2 separate regions of the Homo sapiens genome follow, and region 1 is linked to region 2. Evidence: fine-mapped expression QTL. A gene starts in region 2. The other region holds a variant in brackets. All regions are shown on one strand. Distances are from middle to middle.

Evidence for each region.
Region 1: its variant is fine-mapped to the expression of SAP30L in whole blood (TOPMed, PIP above 0.99).

Annotation. Positions count from the first base shown.
Region 1 is chr5:154,468,304-154,471,206 of GRCh38, reverse strand. No RefSeq gene overlaps it. Among named protein-coding and RNA genes, the nearest start is that of HAND1, 8.5 kb to the left of the region's middle. The variant C/T (reference allele first, on the strand shown) is at 1,518.
Region 2 is chr5:154,444,342-154,447,244 of GRCh38, reverse strand. It overlaps SAP30L (SAP30 like), which reads right to left and starts at 1,248. Exons shown (of 4, transcript NM_024632.6): 1 at 440-1,248. The coding sequence starts at 640. SAP30L-AS1 (SAP30L and GALNT10 antisense RNA 1) reads left to right here and starts at 1,423. Exons shown (of 3, transcript NR_037897.1): 1 at 1,423-1,507. RefSeq lists silencers at 605-714, 845-1,374 and enhancers at 951-1,451, 1,505-1,624.

The DNA of each region.
Region 1 (2,903 bases), 24 kb before region 2:
ATGTGACCAGTTCAGGGTCACACAGCCAGTCAAAGGCTGAGCCCGGATTAGAAGGTGCGCCTCAAACCCAGGGTTCTTACGGAAAAGGCACTGGATACCTTCTGTCTATGCAACCATTGGTTAACCTTATAGTCTTGCTAAATCTTCACAAAAGAAACGAAACTAAGAAATCAGCCAATCTCATTTTTAAATGAAGAGTGACTGAAGAGAAAAAATATGCACGTTCTGAAGTGTCTGAAACCAGCCTCCTGATTTAAACCTGATTTGTTAGAAACAAAATTTTTTCAGCTGAGAGAGTTTTTACAGCTGAGCTCTCCCAAACTCATAAAAAACTAGGTTTATATGGGAAATCGTGAAAGACTCTTAACTATAATACACAGCATCTAATGTAAGCAGACGTAGACACTATATAAAGCTCCTACAAATGTTATTAAAACAAACAGAAATGCACATTTATCCCCACAAAATAGACAATGGAAAGCATCGGACTTTAGAGGAGTCCTGAAAGGCTTATGTTCACTGAAATGTGAACACACCCCATAACACTGAGACCTCAAAGGTCTTTACCCACCATCCAAGCATGTCCCTCATTTACAGAAGGAGAAACTGAGGCTCACAAAGGAGAGGGACTTGCCCAGCATCTCAGGGAAGTTGTGCCCTTCTCTTCCCTTTGTTTATTTAATACCTTCTACTTTTAGTGCAGGGAACAGAACAATACAAGGGCCAGGAGTCCCTGCACAAGTTACTGAACATTTCCCAATCTCAGTTTTCTTCACAAGTTACTGAACATTTCTCAACCTCAGTTTTCTTATCTACAAAATGAGAGCAATCATTCCCCCAACATCCTTGGGTCTGTGAGGATGGAAAGAGATAAGGCATGCAAAGCACTTAGCGCGTTGCCCATGGTAGAGCTATTTTTATTATTTTATTTAATCCTCATAACAGTCTTGTGAAGCATTGAGGGTTTCTTTTGGTTTGTTTGCTGGCTTTGGAGACTCAGGGCATACTTCCAACAGATGCAGAAGATTTCAGTGACTTTCTCAAGGACACACACCCAGTGAGCAAATTCCTGCTTCAAAGCCCTTATAGTCCACATCATTAAGGTAACACAGGGGGAAGGCAGCCTGTAGCCGTTGAATTTCTGAAACTGTTTCAGGCAGCACTGTACAGTACAACTATCATGCAAGCTATAAGTGCGAGTCACATAGGTGATTAAACATTTTCTAGTAGCCACAATAAAAATGAGAAGAGAAACAGGTGAAATTATTTTAATAATGTATTTTGTTTAACTTAATATATCCAAAATAGAATTTCAACATGAATCCATCTAAAAATTATTAGTAAGATATTTTACATTCTTTTTTTTTCATACTAAGCCTTCAAAACCAGGGGCTTTTTTTTTTTTTTTTTAAGTTGGAGTTTCATTCTTTTTGCCCAGGCTATAGTGCAGTGGTGCCGTCTCGGCTCACTGAAACCTCCGTCTCTCAGGTTCAAGCGATACTCCTGCCTCAGCCTCC[C/T]GAGTAGCTGGGATTACAGGTGCTGACCAATATACCTGGCTAACTTTTTGTATTTTTAGTAGAGATGCGGTTTCAGCTTGTCAGCTGGCTGGTCTCGAGCTCAAATGATCCTCCCACCTTAGCCTCCCAAAGTGCTGGGATTACAGGCGAGAGCCACCGTGCCTGGTCCAGGCACATAACTATTAAGTGGCAGGGCTGGGCTGCAGACCCAGATGCATTTGACTCGAAAACCTGCCCTTTCAGCCACTCAGTTCCGTGACTCCCAGAGACAGTAGGGGGACTATAGCTGGGCAGTAAGATGTGGAGTGCCTTTTGGAGTGTCCCACCTAGTTCCAGTTCCAAGTCTACTATGAGTCAGGTGACCTTGGTCCAGTCATCTCCTTGTGCCCCAGTTTTCTAATCTCTAAGATGGGCTAACAATATCTTTCCTCCCCGCAACAGAACTCCTGTCACGCTGAAGTGGGAAAAGATCTTTGAAAGTGTTTTGAAGGCTGGGTGCGGTGGCTCACGCCTGTAATCTCAAGACTTTGGGAAGCCAAGGTGGGTGGATCACCTGAGGTTAGGAGTTCGAGACAAGCCTGACCAGCATGGTGAAACCCCATCTCTACGAAAAATACAAAAATTAGCAGGGCGTGTTGGCACATGCCTGTAATCTCAGCTACTTGGGAGGCTGAGGCAGGAGAATTGCTTGAACCTGGGAGGTGGAGGTTGTAGTGAGTTGAGATAGCGCCACTGCACTCCAGCCTGGGCAACAGAGTGAGACTTTGTCTCAAAAAAAAAAAAAGTGTTTTGAAACAGAAAACATATTAGCACAAGAGGCCTGGCCAAGGTCAACAGGGAGGTCTAGACTGGCCCCCCAGGCCTGTACTCAAAACTAGGTGAGTTGGTGAAATGAGCTGCATGGCAATGGGCAGGTTTTTTAACCTTTCTGAGACCCACAGCTCACTTCTGTAAAAGGGAAGGCAGAGGCCAGGCGCAGTGGCTCACACCTGTAATCTCAGCACTTTGGGAGACCGAGGCAGGCAGATCACAAGGTCAGGAGTTGGAGAACAGCCTGGTTAACATGGGGAAACCCCGTCTCTACTAAAAAAATACAAAAATTAGCCGGGCATGGGGGCGTGCACCTGTAATCCCAGCTACTCGAGAAGCTGAGGCAGGAGAATTGCTTGAACCTGGGAGGTGGAGGTTGCAGTAAGCTGAAATCGCGTCACTGCACTCCAGCCTGGGTGACAGAGCAAGACTCTGTCTCAAAAAAAATTCTCAAAAAAAGAGAGAAAAAAAAAGGGAAGGCAGAGTAGCGTCTAGAAGCGTTTTGAGGACCTGGGAAGCTCTTAGCCTGGCCTGGAGCAGGCCGGTGGTAAACACGAGCTGTTCTTGCTGCTGTTG
Region 2 (2,903 bases):
AGCCAGGGAAGTAACTGCCACCTTTCTCTGTCTGAAGGAATAACAGGGTTCCTAGAAGGAGAGAGAAGTTGGAAAAGAGCCGGGTATCTTCATCACTCCCCGCTCCGATTCTTGCTCCTTCAAGGGCCAACAAAACTAACCCACCTCTCCCTGCTCTAAAGTCTAAACCAATAAAACAAGTTGGAAACTGCTGTCCAATCTTTCCAGGCAGCAGGAGTCCTGAAGCCCCCGCCCCCATCCTCCCGGATCTGGGTAGAATCACAGTCAGAGCATGTCAGCGCTGGAGCGGCCTTTGAAATGCGGAGTCCAACTCAGTTCTGCAGAGCCGGGGCGGCGAGGCCCACGGCGGGGAGTGCCCGGGGAGTCCCGACTGGAGCCCAGGGCAGCGGACGGAGAGCTGGGGGCGCCGGGGCCCAGACGCGAGCGGGGGCGGACTCACGCTCTTGTCGATGTCCAGCTTGAGTTTCTTCTGCGAGATGCTCTTCTGGACCCTCTTGCTGAAGGAGGCGTTGCCCGCGGGCCGGACGCAGCGCTCGCCGTCCTCGATGAGGCAGCAGCTCTGGCCGTAGCCCGGGGCGGCGGCAGCTGGGGCGGCGGGGGGCCCTTCGCGGCTGTCCTCCTCCGTGCTGAAGCCGTTCATCTCCCCGCCCCGGGCCGGTCCCTCTGGGGGAGGGTCCCCGGTAGGCCACTCCGCGGCCGCGCTTGCCGCGGGGCAGGTCGCTGAGACCCCCGCAGCCGAGGGTCCCAGAGTCCGTCTCCAGCCCGGGCGCTGCCCTGCCCCGCGTCCGAGAGGCCCGGCTCCCTCGGCCCCCGGCCCTCCGCCTCCGGAAGCCCCCTTCCTCCCGGCTCGAGGCCCCGGGGTCGGCTCCCGCGGCTCGCAGGGCCCCGCCGGGGGTCACCCGGAGGAGCCTTCTGCCGGGGGCCCAGAACCGTAACCCTGCAGCGGGGGTGTCCGGGAGGGCGTCCCAGGAAACAGCCGCTCCCCAAGGACTCCGGGCCTGGGTTGCCAGGGGGTTTCGAAGGCCCCTGCCGGCTCCCGCCTTCTTTCGGCAGCGGGGCAAACTCGCTGCCGGGCAGCTCCCCCGGGGTGGCGCGGCCTCCTCGCGCGGGGCCCGGCCTCGAACCCGCGGCACCCGGGCCCCGCGGCTCGTCCGGCCCACTCCACCCCTGCAGCCACTCGGCTGCGCCCCGAGTCCCGCGGCAGCCCCTGGGCCGCCCGGCCGCCGCCCGCCGAACGCTCCGCACCACAACAGTTCGCTCCCCCCGCCCTTCGCGGGACAGCGGAAGTCCCGCCTTCACGCGACCATTGGTCTCATTTGCTCTCTGGGCGGGGCTGCCGCCGCCGCTGGCGCGTCCCATTGGGCGTCGCCGCCGCCAGTCTCCGGCGCCAGGCTACTTCCTGGACTCTGCTGGGATGGGTTCAAAGTAGAGAAAGTGGAAGAGGAAAGAGTTACCCCAGCGAGAACCGGGAACCGGGCTGCAGACTCTCCGGCCCGGGGGAGGGATGGTGAGCAGGGGCCTGGCTGGACCGAGGGCCAGACTCCAGGAACAGAGGAACACATTCGGGGACAGACAGTAGAGACGCGGACGGGGACGCTGAGGGACAGACTTGGAGGAGGGGCATATGAGGGGACCTAAAGAGGATAGAGGTGCTATCAGGAGAGGGGCGGACTAATAAAATGAAAGGGCCAGGGCCAGAGGACTCGCGGATCCGTGGGAGGAAGGGTGGGTGAAATAGGACGGAAAGCCAGTCATGGCGGGAAAGACAGAGGGACAACCCCATACAGATACGTGGAAAGACATGCGGAGGAGGTGATGGGGGGATCTTGCAAGGCAGTCGCAATATTGGGGGTAGCCGATACCTTCCAGAGTGTGGAGAGTGGGACTGGCTTGGACGGCGCGGAAAGAAAAGGAGAGGGGGAAAGGAGACCCCGAGGGGTTTGGGCGACCCCTCCACTGGGAAGAATGGGAAGTCCGAATGAGGTCTGGAGGGTGGACTAGGTGAGCCGCGGGCAAGAGAAAGGGCTTCAGGGGAGATGAAGTGAAGGCTGGGAGTGGGGCCCAGGGGCCAATCTCGGAATCTAGATGGGGAAGGGCTGCGGTGTCTTGGGCTCTCCCTGGAGCTCCAAGCTGTAGTTCTATTGCTTTGAGTCCCCGGGTCTACCGGCGAAGCGACTGCGCCCTGCCAAGACCCTGCGCTTGGTTTCGGCGCCCAGGGCACCACCTCCCCTCCAGGAGGGGCCGTAGGATATGCTCTGGTCCAGCACTTCAGTCATGCCACTCTCCAACTGCGCAGCATGGGGACTGATGAGGTCCGAAAGGCGATGGGACCAGCCCAGGGTCGTGTAATTATGTAGGGCTGGGCAGCGTTTTATGGGCAGGGAAGAGGGGAGGCTGTGTTAGGTGATAGGTAAGCAAGTGTTAGTACTAGAGGGCATAGAAGGAGCTTCGGGTTTGTGTCCTGTTGTAAAAGGGAAAGCTACCAGTTTCCATGTTTAGAAGCAGGTGGCTGGTGATCTTAAGTTTTGCTCAGTGGCCATAAATGCATTTGTAGCATCTGAACTGGTAATTTCACACGTGGGACAGCCATCGTCGGAAATAGGCCTATCAGAGATAATATGAAGTACAGTGATGTTCATTATGGAATTATTTATAATAGGAAAAATAAAATAGAACCTCAGAGTTCCAAAAGGGAAGTGGTTAAGTAAACTACCTAAAATCTTCAGAAAGAGATTGTGCAGTTAGCATTTGAGGTAGTTTCAACATCAATGTAAACATTTTCTATAGAGAATAATTCACCATTAATTCTTAAATAAAGAGCTGATGAGGAGTTGGAGAAATGCTTTTTTTATGATAAGTAAAAAAATTCAGGATATGAAATTGCATGGAGGATACGATGTCTG